2 separate regions of the Homo sapiens genome follow, and region 2 is linked to region 1. A link means that fine-mapping ties the variant in region 1 to the expression of a gene that starts in the linked region. Tissue or cell type: whole blood. Region 1 holds a variant in brackets; the other region holds the start of a gene. All regions are shown on one strand. Distances are from middle to middle.

The links. PIP is the estimated chance that this variant, and not a neighbour inherited with it, causes the effect.
Region 2: TMEM71 starts here. The variant in region 1 is fine-mapped to the expression of TMEM71 in whole blood (INTERVAL, PIP 0.98).

The regions. Positions count from the first base shown.
Region 1 is chr8:132,700,304-132,708,411 of GRCh38, reverse strand. It overlaps a transcript of DNAAF11 not described here and a transcript of TMEM71 not described here. Among named protein-coding and RNA genes, the nearest start is that of DNAAF11, 29 kb to the right of the region's middle. The variant C/T (reference allele first, on the strand shown) is at 4,854.
Region 2 is chr8:132,756,721-132,764,822 of GRCh38, reverse strand. TMEM71 (transmembrane protein 71) reads left to right here and starts at 4,241. Exons shown (of 10, transcript NM_001382403.1): 1 at 4,241-4,347; 2 at 5,908-5,983; 3 at 7,529-7,589. The coding sequence starts at 5,944.

The sequences.
Region 1 (8,108 bases):
GTGTTGCTGTGCAAAATGACTTTAGGACATGTCCCCTAGCAGTGGGCTCCAGCCAGATGGTTGCTCTTGAGCCCCACTACTTGGAGTGGAGAGTATAACCTTAATATCCTGCAGATCCATCTGTGACAGAGGTGCACAGGACCTGACTAGTGATGTGTGTGCTGCCAGGAAGACTTGTACATCACTGGATGTCAGCTCTCTGCCAATGGCCAGCCTCAATCCTCTTCAGGTCCTATTTGTTATTGTAGTCTAGCAGCGGGCAATATTGTTATAAAGAACCACGTCTGCTGTACACAAAAGATTCTCAGTGATCTGGAATGCACTCCTTGGGAATTTGTAACTTTGCTGAATTTAATAGTCATCATCATAATATGATTTCATGTATATATTTGATTTTATAGTTTCATTTATTAATACATTCAGTAAATATATATTTAGTCCAACCATGTGCCAAGAGCCAGTCTAGCCCCTGGGAGTATGACGGTGAAGAATACAGACGAGGTTCCTGTACTTATTAAATGTCATGTTTATGTAGGCACCATTCATTCTGTGAAATAGGCAGAACAGCTGTTTTTAAAAACTTGTATTGTTCAAATACGAGAAAAACAGAAAATAGTGTAAAAATTATTATAAGGCAAATGCCTTGTTTTAGTCTGTTTTGTGTTGCTGTACCAGAATATCACAGACTGTGTACTTTATTTTTAAAAAGAAACATATTTCTCACAGTTCTGGCAGCTGTGAAACCCAGTATCAAGGTGCTGGCATCTGGCAAGAGCCTTCTTGCTGCATCATCTCATGGCTGAAGGTGAGAAGATGAGAGAAGGCCAAAGGGAGGAAAGGGGCCAAACTCATCTGTCTATCAGGAACCTACTCCCGAGATAACTAATCTATTCTCACAATAATAACATTAATTCATTCATGAGGGCTGAGCCCTCATGACCTAATCCCCTCTTTAAGGTCCCATGTCTCAACACTGTTGCACTGGGGATTAAGTTTCCAACATATGAAATTTTCAGGTCACATTCAAACCATAGCATGCCCTTTTAAGAACCGAAGAATAAAAAGAGACGAAATCTTGCTAGCTGTATCAGGAGCCCTCCAGCTGCCCCTTCCAACATCCTCACCTTCAGAATAACCACTATGGCTGAGTTTATGATAATCACCTCTGCATCTTGCTTTATAGTTTTTATTACCAATTACGTTTCTAAATACTATAGTATAGCTCTGCCTGGTTTTATTTGTTTGTTTAATATGCCTATTGGGTCTCTTTGAATGCATAAGTTCTTCCTCCCTGACCTTTGAAATTTGTTTCTTTGAAAACTGCATCATTTGTCTTGTAGACTTTACTCCATTGGAATTTTGCTGATCGCATGTCTGTGGTAAAGTTTAATGTCTTCCTTAGTCTTCTGTATTTCTTGCCAACTGAAAGTTGATTACAGAGGCTTAATCGTTTTTTGTTTTGAATTTTGTGGGGAACAATTACTTCCTAGGTGGTGTCATATTCTTTGTCAAGAGTGACATTATGTCATTTTGTGTTGTCAGCAGCCATTTCTGATCAGTGGTTAGATATCTAATTAATTAGAGATTGAAAAGGATGATATTCCAGTTTGATCACATCTTCTTTATTGGGAATATATCTGTGCAAGGAAACATCTACCGTCTGATTGCCCAGTGGTTCAGATTTTATAGGAAAGGAGAGATGAATGCTTGAGTCTTTTCCTGTATTTGCTAATTTTCAAAACAAAAAGTTTATTTCTTAATATCTTTTAAAGGTGGCCAGGATGCTATGTATAATCAGCATTTATATATATGAAGGAACCATGTTTAATATATAAAATTTCCCAAAAGGCACACCCTCCAACTTCCAAACTCTATATACTTTGTACCTCATCAAGATGCTAAAAAGATTGAGAAAGTAAATTAAAGTATGGGAGATATATAGATAATAACTCAACTTTAAAAATTTAACCACCATTTATTTTTTGAGAGCCTACTACCTGTAAGAACTGAGTCAGGTACAGATGTTTTAAAATATGGTGCCTGCCCTCAACAAACTTGCTCTCTAATAGGGGAAACAGGGCATTGCATGAAACAAGAAGGGTAAGACCATGGGGCCAATACTGATGGAAGATGCTAAAGGACTGTAGAGGATTTCCACTCACCCACTGTCATAGCTCAGACTGCTATAAGAAAATACTGTAGATTCAGTGTCTTACCCAACAAACATGTATTTTTTTTCAGAATTCTAAAGGCTGCAAAGTTCAAGATTGAGGTGCCAGCTGATTTGGTGTCTGGTGAGGGCTCACTTCCTGGTTTGCAGATGGCTGTCTTCTTGTTTCAGCTTCACATGTTGGAAAGAAAGATCCAGTGTCTCCTCCTCTTTTTATAAGAGAACAAACCCCATTCATGGAGGACCCATTATCATAACCAGATCATTTTCCAAAGTCCCCACCTCCAAATACCATAACATTGGGGATTAGAGCTTCAACATATGAATCTTATAGGGACAAAAACATTCAGTACATAATACTCAGTTACCAAAAATGTATGCCTAATAAATTTTAGAGATTCAATACTTCTGAATTGAACATCACTGTTTTGACTTACAGGTCTTTTAACGCCTTTTACTAGAGATATTATTTTGCTGCTCTAAAAAGTATAAATGGTTTGTAGTTGTTCTAGCTCATTCATCCATGAGTTCAATCAATCCAATCAATCATTATTATAATTGATCACCTGATAATTACCTGGCACTTCTTAGGAACCAAGGATTTTTTAAGTGAAGGAAATACAATTCTACTCTCAAGGAGCAGATGTCATAGCAGACTGGGAACCAGCTAAGCATGTAATTACAAGTGTCAAATATACTCTAGAGCCAAAAAATGCATTTCTTTGAAAACATTTACAAGGTCAGATTCTCTGGTAATTTAGATGAATTCTTCCTTTGGGTTAATGGGAATTATGGTATTGTCTTCTCTTTTTGAGAGCAGAGAGGGATGAGACATGAAGGGAGAACCAAAGTATCAGAAACAGGTAGTGAGGAGAAGAAAATAAAAGAAATGATTACAGTGGCAATAAGTTAACAGTAATAGGAAATACGATCACTGGGGAACTTTTATTCTGTGCCTGATCCTGCCCCTGACAAGTTCACGTTGCATGTTCTATTAAATCTCATAACAACCACTTTAGCTAGGCAGGTGTGATGGTTAATTTTATGTGTCAACTTGGATATATCATGATGAAAAGTTGCTTGGTCAAAAACTGGTCTAGATGTTCCTGTGAAGGTATTTTGTGGATGTGATTAATGTTTGCAATCAGTTGACATTAAATAAAGCAGATTATCCTCCATAATGTGGGTGGGCCTCATTCAACACATTGAAAGCCTTAAGAGCAAAGATGGATGTTTACTAAAGAAGGAAGTCTGCCTCCAAATTGCAATATAAACATTCTGCCTGAGTTTCCAGCCTGTAGAGTCAAGACAGTAACATTATCTCTCACCTGAATTTCCAGACTGCCATCTTGCCGTATGGATTCTGGACTTGTCAGCTCACTACGACTGTGTAAGCCAATTACTTAAAATCTCTCTCTCTCTTTCCATATATATATAGTGTATATATACTGTATTAGTTAAGGTTCTCCAGAGAAACGGAACCAATAGGATGTGTAATATAGATATACATGTATTACATATAATATACAAAAAATGTATATTTATAATTCATCACATAACCAATGGGACATATAATATATGTGATTATGTATAATATATGTGACATATGTAATATATATGTTTATAATATATCATATATCCTATTGTTTCTGTATCTCTGGACAACCCTGTCTAATATAGCAGATATGATTATTGCCATTTTATACATTTAATAACGTTAGACAGGTTGAATAACTTTCCTAAGGGTTTCCGAAGATGATAAGTAAGTGGGAGATCTAGATTTCAAAGCCAAGCCTATCTGACCCACAGCCCTTACTTCCCCTACTACTGATTGCCGCTGAGAAGGTCACATGAGAGGGGCATGGTGCCTTGGTGATCAAAGGCTGTGTGAGTCATTCTCGCCAGAAATGCTAACTCAGGAGAAAGTTTTCCATGAGGTGAAACATTAAATGAAAAGAGTCATCTTTCAAAGACAATGATGACCTTCACCTTTTTTCTTGTATCTCAGGGTTCTCAAATCTAGTTTCTTGGAGAATTGGCATGAATGAGATGCAATATAAAGAGAGGAATTATCTAACATTGTCCGGTCTGCTTTAGAGCCTCTGTTCATAGAGGCTGATGTAGCTACAGAGCTCATAAAAAGAGTTGCTGTTTTGTTTTGGCGCATCTACTATATGCCAGGTGATTTATCTTCTTTGTCTGTAATCATCGCCACCATCCTGCTGAGGACTACCCTTGGTTTGGTCAGCTTCCACAGTATGTAAACCCACATCATCTCTGATGGGATCAGCCAGCCGTCCTTCATCTTGTAACCATGCTGTATGGCCTCCAAGCTTGCCTGGCGTATTCTGTCTTAATTTTCTCTGACTGGGAAGTGTCCCTTCGTTTATAGGATTGGTCATATGACCCACTTATGCAAGGTGGTGGAGAAAGCAGGGAAGTACACGATCCGTGTACTTTGACGAGCTTTAGCAGCTCTGCCACCCACTCTCATTTAAAAGTGAGGAAGGCAAACTTCAAGGAGGATGTATTGCTCACCCTGAGTCATACACTGCAGGTCTCTAAGGCGCCTGTGCCACTCACCTCCACCCCCTCCCCAACACCCTCACTGCAATGCTCCTCCAAGCAGGTATCTACGGTAGTTACTTCAAAACAACTCAGATGCAAAATGATCTGCTTGTGC[C/T]GCAGGAGAGGCCAACCACCACCCCCAAAAGGAATCCCACTACTGCAAACACAATGCAGCAGACACAGACACCTGCCAACTTGGCATACTTTGCATCAATGCCACATTTGCCTACCAGGCTTTGATGAAGATCTGATCATGTATTTCAAAAAAAAAATCTACCCTACTGTGCAGGCTGTATCCCCTCCATCTGTCCCATGCAGGGTAAAATCTGCTACAGCTGCAAGCTACACCTGCTAGAGAGCCAGACAGGGTAACTTGGGAGTGGAGGGCAATTTAGCAGGTGGATGCTAAAAGCTGGAAACATTTTGCAAAAATTTTCTTATCCTTTTGTAGCCTTAAAGGAAACTTTTTAAAAAAGAAAATAAGATGCAAAGGGTAAAACAAAGGCTGGTGAATCAGGACTTGTACTTTCAATGCAAAATGAAATTTTGCATTTGCATTGTAGAGAGGGAAGGTAGTCCCTCCTCCAGCCCAGGCCAAATTGAAACAACATACCTTTGTGTGGGTGAAGCTCATCTTCAGGCTGCAAGGGATCTGCTGTGGGGGAGACAGCTGAAATTCACTGCCGGCAGTTCCATTTTATTCTCATTTTCTTTTCTCTTTTTCAGTAAAAGAAAAGGTCAAGAAACACATTCTAGAGCCTTCCGCCTTCCTAATCTTCCTTGTTTCCTCTCTTGCTGTGTCCTTCGAAGAGTAGCATCGCAGTATAGCATGATACTTCAGCTCTGGAGTCAGAGGAGACCTGGGACTAGACTGTGATCCAGCTACTTAACTGCTTTCACTTTGGACAAGCGATTTCACGTTTCTAAGCTTTAATTTCCCAGTCTTTAAAATGAGACTAAAATATTACCTAATTCGTCTAACTTTTATGAGATTAAACAAGTTCATGCAGGCAAAATGCTTAACACTTAAAACAGTGCTAGATCATAAGCTTTTCTGAAGTGGGAGCTGCAATTATTATTATTATCATTATTATTGTATAATAATAGTAGTGGTGACAGTAGTAGTAGTATTTATGACCTCTGGGACAACGGAAATTTTTCAGTTATTAGGTGAGATGATAGAAAGGAGAGACTAACTGTGGGCTGAGGCTTAGCTGCGGCCGTGTTAATCTAGCTGAATAAATACTTCTTCCAATATTTAACACAAGTTAGAATGGTATAAAGGCAAAAATACAGATTTTGAGGTCAGATAGACATATATGTAGACTTAGACACAGACACAGACTCTGGCAGTTCCACCATTTCTAGCTTTGTGATATTGGACCTATTAGTCAACTTCATTGACCCTCACTTTGCTCATTTATAAAACAGACCTAATTTCATGACTTGTGGCCGTCTCTGAAGTGCTTGCTGCAGTGTGGAGTGATCGTATGGCTTTATTGTCATAGAGAAGACCAAATAAGAGAAAGTAAGCTTATATAGTGGCATGAGAAAAGATTGGCTTTAAAAATAACTTCTTTAATTCAATTTTCTTTATTTTGAAAGTGACTCACCATCATTTTATTTAAATAGGAAGGAAAGAATTCAAATAAGCAAAAGAGAAGAAATTACACATCATCCCTCAACTCAAGAATAGCCAAGGCCAACATCTTGATGTTTATCCAAGAAAATTATCTTGGCTGCAAGGTTGATGAGATATGAAAGCAGGCCACCTAGAGAGGGGGACTTTGGGCCTAGGAGCTGCCACCATCTGGGGTCAATCATGTGGCCATTGCTCTGGTGGAAGCAGAGGGCTCTACCAGATGACAGGCTCAACCCCCTGCTATGATTTATTGTAAGGGAAGTGCCATCAGCTGTCACACTGCACCAGTGTCATCCCACTTCCCATCCCCAACCTGGGGGCAAGATGGCCACACAATAAGTTAGTTTTAAAGACACTTTATCCAAAGGGAAGCAGGACATAAACTAAAATCTAGTGCATTCGGTGTGTCTTCCCACCTTCCTTTTCTTCCTCCCTTATTTTTTGTTTCAACTCTCAGGCCTTTGTTAGTTCTGGGGTCCATGCAGCTCAGGAGCTCACAGTCAAGATGTAGACAACTCCAGGTAGCCCTTCCCACCTCTGCCTGAATAACAGAAAGGCAGACAGAAAAGCTTCCCAGGCATCCTCTGTACTTCACTGCACAGTGCTCAGCACACTGGTCTAAGTCCAGTGTCCATCTTTCCTCATGACTACAAGCTCCAGGAGGGAAAAGATCATTTCCTCTGTGGTCATTACTCTATTCCCAGTGCCTCTGGGGAGGCACTCAGTAACTGTTGATCAGACTGCTGCTATTGAAAGAATATATGAGCCGGGTGGTATTTGTAGTGAACATTTGTTGTCCTGTTCTGTATCCCAGTGCTATGTTTTGAATGTTTATCCCCTCCAAAACTCATGTTAAAATGTAATTGCCATTGTAACAGTGCTAAGAGGTGGGACCCTTAAAAAAGGTGATTAGGCCATGAGGGCTCCCTCTTCATAGACAAGGTTGGTGCCATTATAAAAGAGCAAGCCCCCTCTTGTTCATTCTTGCCCTTCCATCTTCCCCCATGGATACCACAGCAAGAAAGTTCTTGCAAGATACCAACCCCTCGATCTTGAACTTCTCACATTTCAGAACTGTGAGCCGATAAATTTCTGTTCATTTTAAATTATCAAGTATGTGGTATTCTGTCATGGCAGCATAAAAATGAGGAAGACACTCTATCACTTCGTTTTCTATTCTGATTCCTATAACACCCTTTTCTTTGGGCAATCACTCCTCCTCAGTCCATACATTTTGGTAAGGCTACTGATCTCAAACCCAGACCCCAAACCTTGGGGACGATGGATGTATAAGACACAAGCTTGGGCAATCAGATTCTGTTTCTATTTCTTTTTTTACAGACAGGATCTCCCTCTGTCACCTAGGCTGGAGTGCAAGTGCAGAGGCACAATCACAGTTCATTGCAGCCTAGAACCCTTGGGCTCAAGCAATCCTCCTGCCTCAGCCTCCCAAGTAGCTGGGACTACAGGTATACACCACTGCATCTGGCTAATTTTTTTTTTTTTTTGTAGAGGTGGGGGTCTTACTTTTTTCCCCAGGCTGGTCTTCAACTCCTGGCCACAAGTAATGGTACCACTTCAGCCTCCCAAAACGTTGGGATTACACATGTTATTCATTAACATGAACTGCTGCACCCAGCTCTCAATCAGACTCTTTTTCTCCCAGAGCCAGCTGGTGATGAGAGGAAGGCCATGACCAAGTCCAGGGGATTGAGGGCTGCACTCATT
Region 2 (8,102 bases), 56 kb before region 1:
GTAGCAGGAGGAACCAACATGGACAGAAACTTGGCTCATTAGTTCCAATTGTGATGCATCCTCTGAAAGGAAAGCGCAGACAGCTATGGGATCCATAACCTGGTCTGGGAGGGTCAGAGAGGCTGCTCAGAGAAAAAGCTCTTTCAGAAAGAGATGGGAGATGAAGAAAATAGCACATTCCAAGGGCCTGAGGTGGAGCAAAGCTAGAGAAGCTGAAAGGAAGCCAGCATGGTTGAATTCTAAAAAGACAGATGGGGCCTGTTGAGGGAACAATGAGGCTGAAAAATAGTCAAGTCCAGACCCTACCAGGCCTGGCAGGCCATGAAGAGGATTTTGAACTTCACAGGAGAGAGGAGCAAGGGCAAGCACTGATGAATTTAATCAGGGGAGTGACATAATCAGATATTCTATTGGAGAGGTCATTCTGACCATGGCTTGGGGAGTGTATTGGAGAGAGGCCAAGTGACTTTGGCATGTTGGCATGGAAGTCCAGGCAACAAGTGCAATACACACACACACACACACACACACACAACCTCCCAGTTCATATTTTTCATTATGTAATGTACCTTATTGATAGCTATTATTATATGGCTTATGCATACTGATTTGATGTAGCTGGAGCCCTAGAGCAGATAGTGGAGATGGAGACTTAGATGATAAGCCTAAGAGCTACATGAAGAGGAATCAAGATTTCAAGTCCGTGTTCAAAAGCTACATGGAGAGGAGTCGCAATTTCTCCCAGTTTTCTGGCATGAGTGATTGGGTGGAAGATATTGCCATCTAATGGGACACAGTGTTCCAGAGCAGGATGAGGCTTGGGTAGGAAGAGAGATCATGAGTACATGAGGGATTTAAGGAAGCATGCAGACATGTTTGTTCGTTGTTTGTAGTGTGTTAAAATTAAATTTGTCAAGTCCATCAATTTATGTCAGCATTTCCTAACATGAGTTCTTTAGCATTCCGCCTGTCAAAGAGTATCTTAGGGACTAACAGTTTTGGCTTTACGTGGGAGCTGATATGAAACACTGTCTCCAATTCCCTCACTTCTGTAAGATCCTCTGTGATTCATTTGCAACACATGAACGTTTGCAACACATAGCTCTGGAACTGGGGTCTTGGGAGATATTATGTGACCAAAAGATTCTCAAGGCAAATAATTTTGACAGATGGTGAGACCATGTTTCCTGTGTATAGTAGCAAGTCCGAGTATCATTTAAAAGATTCTATAGTGACCTCTATTAGAGACCTATGCTTTCTAGAACTTTTTGTACTGAAATTTGCCACTCGTCTTTTCCCCATCCACACGCATCACCTCCATTAACAGTGGAGGACTGAATATTCTGTGGAACATGCTTTTAGAAACATTGATTTATAACATGCAGAATAAAGGTTCTGAAGGCAAGTCTACCTGGATGTAATTAATTTATTTGTTAATTCCACAAACATTAATTGATAACCTACTATATGGGAAGCACTACTCTTGATACTTGGGCTATTAAAATGAAGCAAAATGACAATATTCTCTGCTCTTTTAATGCTCATGTTCTGGCTGAGGAGTACGTTTCTTATTACAAGGAATGAATTGTGTGACATATTCCTTGGTAAAAAGTGCTAAGGAGAAGAATAAAGCAGGAAGAGACTAGGGAGTGGTGTGGAGGGCAATTAATTAGTAGCAAGGCAGTGGAGAAAAGAGCTGAGGGAGGGGAGGAAGAAAGCCCTGTGACCCTTAGGGTGAGGGAACACTAACCTCAAAGATCTTGAAGTAGACCCGTGTCTAGTGTATGAGAAACAAGAAGAAGATGAGTGGGTCTCAAGAGAGAAGATTGAGAGGGGAACCATAGGTTTGGAATTTAGTTCTGGCCATTGGCAATTTTGAAAGATTTATGCAAACTCTATAAACCTCTGTCCTGCATGTGGATAACAATTGCACTTATTTTCTAGGGCTACGTGAGGTTGAAACAAGATTACATATGTACAGTGTTTAGTGCAGTGCCTGGTTTGTAGAAAATGCTGACACACGTTGGATATGATCATTACACTTATAGGTTAAGAAAGCAAACTCGAGAGCCATCTCATCAGGGTTTGAATCCTAGCTCTACTTACTCATCACGTACTGGCTATGTGAATTTGGGCAACTCTCTAAACTCAGTTTGCTCTTCTGTAAAATGAGAATAATAATACAGCATCTCCCATGGAATTGATGTAACAATTAATGTGTTGATATGTGGAAAGACCTTAGAACAGTGCCTGGTACATAGTAAGCACTCCTTAAAGTTAGCAATTATTATGATCATTAATAATAAGGTTCTAATATGTGCCAGATCTTTAAAAAAAAAAAAAGTAGACCAAAGTCTTTCTGATGTGAGCTCTTCGGAAAAGTGGATTTGTGGGCACAGGAAGAGCAGAGGGTCTCGAATAAGTCAGAAAGATTTTCCTCCCTCATCTAGAAGAGATAAGCCAAGGCTGGAAGAGGGAGGATGAGGGATAAGAAAAACAGGAAAAGGAGAAGAAGAGAACTGTGAATTCCAGTAAAGAGAATACCAGACAGCTGTGAAGCAGAATAGCTGTCTGTTAAATTTAGGCAGATGTGACCAGGAGTAGCCTTGAGTAAATGTGACTATATTCTACAGGAGTCACTAAAGCAGCAGAGAGTCAGCAATGACAGATGGCTCAGGAAGTGACCTGTGTTAGGACTATGCATCTGCTATGTGTTGCTGTGTAACAAATTACCTCAAAACGTGGTGGCTTGAAATACCATTTGTCACTTCCCAGTTTGCGTGGGCCAGGGAGCTGGGCAGGGCTAGCCTGGGTTGTCTGCTTCTGGGTCTTTCCCAGTTCCAATCGAGCATTAGATGGGGCTGCAGTCAGCTCAAGGCTCAACTGGAGAAGGATCCACTTCCAAGCTCACACACTTGGTTTTTGGCTGGATTCCTGGCTGTTGGATGGAGCATCAGACCCTTACTGGCTTTTGAGACCACTCTTGATTCCTTGACACATGGGCTTCTCCACCATGGCAGCTTGCTTCATCAAAGCAGGCAAGCAAGAAAGTAATAGAGTCCAACAAGATGGAAGCCTCATCATGGTAGTGGAAACTCAGCACCTTTGCCTTACTTTATTTACAAGGAGCATGTCAGCAGCCTCAGTCTACACTCAAGGGATGGAGAATAGACATGAAGTTCCAGAGACAGAGAACTTTGAAATTAGATGGGCCCTCCTCCTGACAGTTCCTGCTGCCTAGAACATGTTCTACAGAAGATCCTGCCATGTGGCAGAACCTCAGGGGGAAAGGGAACCCCAGGAAAGGATGAGATTAACTTTTCCGCCAGCCGGACCAACTGGTGCCTCAGAAGAGAACTTGATTTAAGAAAACAAATAAAGAATACACCTTGCACATCTGTGCTGAGGACTCGATTATTTCTCATTTCTTTTATTTCATTTAATTCTTCAAGCCATCATATGACATATATATTTTTATGTTTATAATTGAGAAAACTGCAACTCAGAGGGGTAAGTCACAAATCTGAGGTCACACAGCTAGGATGGTAGACAGGTTGAATTTCTGTCTTGTGACCCCAGAATCCGCACTCTTTCCACTATGCAGTGGTACCTCAATGTTGCTGGAATATATATTTGAATGTACATTTCTTTTATCACTTACAGTAGTACAGATGTGTATGAACCCATAAACACCATCAAGTCTTTGAGCTCTACTATAATGTAAATGTAAAATGCCATCTATAGAGTTTTTTGTGAAGTCCAACCTTCATTAGATAAACCTATTGCCTCTATAGAAATTTTCATAAGATCAAGCTCTTGCTATTTAATAGTATTCTGAATTTAATAGCATCAGTGCATTATCCTCAATAAATTTAAGTGATTTGGACAAAGATCACTACTCTGCACTACTTATAACTGAATGTGGCCATATGATGAGCAAGAAATGTCAGTTCGCTGAGTCTTTCTCACGTTCTCGCAGCCAAAGGTGACAAGTTAGCTCAGAAAACCACCCCTCCAGTGACCAGGGTGTAACCAGCTGGCCTGACACATGGGCTGCACATTCCCTGCTGCTGGCCCAGGAAACTCTCTGAAATCTTCAGCACACTCCTCAGTGTGAATGCCACTGATGTGAGCCCAACAGGAAGTGTGACCTCATTCTGCTTCTTTGCCTCTGGTTACGCAGGCTGTTTTCAAAAGAAAACAAGAGAAGTTGTAAGACTGACTTTCCCAAGAACTATACACTCATTTATACCAGGAAACAGACAAGAGAACAAGAGGCTGCCGAAGACAAAACTTCTCTGCAAGCACCTGTGCACAGCAATGTGCGTGGGCATCTGTGAGAAGAAGGTAGGGTGGGATTCCCTTTATTAAGAGACTTCTGCACCTGTTGACATTCAGACATTTTTCAGCCGAGGAACTGCTCAGTCCTCAATTTTTCCACTGTCAACCACAGGAAGCTTCGTATTTCAGTAATAATTTTGTCCTTTGTCAATTGGAAGAAGAGGCTGGGAACTCCCTTTGGAAGGAACACGTATGCACACATTATTTTTCAGAATAGATGTGTCGCTTTGATGGAACTGGCAGATTCTGTTTCTTGAAAAGTTTTAGATCTGTAACTGAAGGGCTTTTTTTTTTCCTACTGTTACTAATTTTCTATTGAATGTCAGTGTACTGCCTGTAGATTCTTCTAAGCACTTGTGAGATAGAGCAATAAGACCTTCTTTTGCTGCAGGATTTATAGGCTTAAAATTAAGCTTAATACTTGGGGAACACTAAAATAAGGTAATTTGGGCTGGGCATACCCGTACAATATTGATCAAAAATGAAAAGAACAAGTAACATACTAATATATTACATTACACTGGGATTATTTTATATCCCAAACAAATGAAATTTGTAAATGTGTGCTTTGATTTAGAAATCTTCCAAGGAAGGCCAGAAAGTTCTCCTGACATCTTTACAGGTCTCTATAAACCAGGTTTATATTTTCCTAATAGGGTTTATATATAATTTATTGAAATATTCAACTTGAAGCTGTAGAATTAGCCTGGTTTGATTGATTGAATTACAGCTACAAAAACAATCCATTACTAGTTCTCATGTTACAAAATGTGGCCATAAGTGGTGAATCAGAAAATAATTTACTCCTACCTTATAAAGCGATTAGGATAGTGATACTATATACAAAGTTTCATAGTCAACAGAAGTTGGTTCTATTTGATGAACAGTAAATGATCAAAGTTTGCATAATTTACATACTTTGATATGTTTTTAATTAGTAATTGAGAAATTAAATCATGTCTTCATGGGAACTAAGTTCTAAAATCTTCCCAATGGTATGCTATCTTTAGTGCAACATTACTTATGCTGTTTAGGAATGTCCAGGCTGATAAAAACTATTAAAATCACTCTCTGTGACTACCTGTCAATGGTTCAAGTTGTTGGGAAAAAGACAGACACCAATCTCCAAGCACTGTTTGAAACTTGATAATGAAGTTGACTTGTGTCAGATGATTAAAATACACGTAAGTTTGTTTTGGGGCTAAATGACTGTTAGAACCAGTCATTTTATTAAGATTTCTTAATCAAATACCTCACTTTCATTATTTTCTTTGGATTACAAATCAACCTTTTTAAGTCTAGATTTTCCAAATAAAGTGTGGTTCTTATTTACAGAAAAATGTTATTGAGATGCACTGAGTGAGGCAATGGAAAATGTTCAGTCATAGAGGCAGACACAACTTTAGAGGGGTTGTGTCTTCAGTCTGGTCTCCTACCTTCAATTCTGTATCTCTGTATTATTTCAGTAAACAAATCTGACTAGTGCAATTAGTAGATGCCATCTGTTTTGGCATAATTTTTCTATTTTTAATATATAGTCCACCTTTTTTTTAACATCTTTTGCAGAGAATCTGTGAAGTTTGAGCAAGCGGCCTTCCCAAGATGTACCGAATATCTCAACTGATGTCAACACCAGTAGCAAGTAAATGTAGAAGAACTGTGATACGCAATTATCTTTTGAACGATTAGACTCCTTTTAGCAATTTCCTTGCTTTGATTTTGCTGATACTCAGACCATTAACCATCTGTCAGTAGCTTGTGCTTCTTAAATGCCAGTGTTCACTTTGGCAATGATTTTAACTTCATTTTTTTCCTTGAAAGAAATGTGGTATTTTTCCTTCTAGTAGAAAAAAAAAAATCACCGTTTTTTTTTAGATGCCTGTGCATAAATGTGAAAGGAGATTGTTTATCAGCTACTATTAAGATGCAAAACTGTTTGTATATAAAAAATGCTGAATGATTTTGATAGCTACTTGCAGAAAATAAGAGCGCTGTTAAAACGGTAGTGGTTTCAAGTTTCTTCCTTCCTCTTGTTATTTTCTCCCAAAACCCCACTTCTAACTCTCCCTCACACACCCACAGTTTTCTCCCTACAAATCAACCAGCCCAATCTGAAAGTCTAAATTCCTTTCTTTGTCCTAGATACTAATTGTCCATAATGGAATCAAATTTCACTAGCTTGTCTGTTAGGACTATTGACACCATCTCTGCACACGATAAAATTCTGCTTTAGAGTTTAGAATATTAATCAACTCCAACTTTCTCCAAGTAAAGTCTGTTGCCACGCCTTTGGTTAAAATGGAACGAATGAATGGATGATGTTTCTATAATTAAGAATACTCACAGTCTTTATACTTTGGAAAAATGTTATATAAAACAAAACAAAACTTTATTTCTTCCCCACTAATGTCTTTTGCTCATTATTTTACAGTAGAAGTGTCTTAATATGCACTAATGAGGGAGAGTCTAGAACAATGATTGAATTCCTCAGATTACTGAGTAAGCTGCAATAACCAACACATTGGGTAATTGATTTGGGTTTTCTCCTGCTTCACACAAGACGTTTTTTCCCATCCTTACATGAGCTCAGTTTGATGCTAATGATTTATTATTGCCTCATTCTGCACTAAGAAATTTTTTTTTTTTTTTTTTTTTTGAGACAGAATCTTGCTCTGTCGCCCAGGCTGGAGTGCAGTGGAGCGATCTCAGCTCACTGCAAGCTCTGCCTCCCAGGTTCACGCCATTCTCCTGCCTCAGCCTCCCCAGTAGCTGGGACTGCAGGCGCCCACCACCACGCCCTGCTAATTTTTTGTATATTTTAGTAAAGACGGGGTGTCACCGTGTTAGCCAGGATGGTTTAGATCTCCTGACCTTGTGATCCGCCCGCCTCGGTCTCCCAAATTCTGAGATTACAGGAGTGAGACACTGCGCCCGGAACTTCTAGAGTGTTATGTGGATGAAGGAACAGAAGATAGAAGCCTCTAGTTTATGTCTTGCTTCCGGTAGATCCCTGGTGATAAGGGTACCTGCACTACTGGAGTCTTCCTGCTGAAGCTGGAACATCAGCTATTCCCATCTTCTTACATGCCTCCACTGTTTGCAATTATACATATTGATACATGTATCAACATATGTAACTGTTGATCAGGTATGATACATTCTACTTCTCTCTCATTTGTTTATGCAGGTTCTTCCAGGTTGGAAAGAGAATATGCTGGAGAGCTGTCTCCCACGTGCATTTTCCCAAGGTATACTATGGGGCTTCTTTTAAAAAAATAATCATTCTGGCCGGGCGTGGTGGCTCATGCCTGTAATCCCAGCACTTTGGGAGGCCGAGGCAGGCGGATCACGAGGTCAGGAGATGGAGACCATCCTGGCTAACACGGTGAAACCCCGTCTCCACTAAAAATACAAAAAAAAAAAAAAAATCAGCGCTGCGTGGTGGCGGGCCCCTGCAGTCCCAGCTACTTGAGAGCCTGAGGCGGGAGAATGACGTGAATCCAGGAGGCGGAGCTTGCGGTGAGCCGAGATCCCACCACTGCCCTCCAACCTGGGCGACAGAGAGAGACTTGTCTAAAAAAAAAATCATTCTTCGCTGGGCATGGTGGCTCACCCCTGTAACCCCAGTACTTTCGGAGGCCGAAGTGGGTGGATCACCTGAGGTCAGGAGTTTGAGTCCAGCCTGGGTAAAACATGGTGAAACCTTGTCTCTACTAAAAATACAAAAATTAGCCGGGCATGATGGTATGTGCCTGTAATCT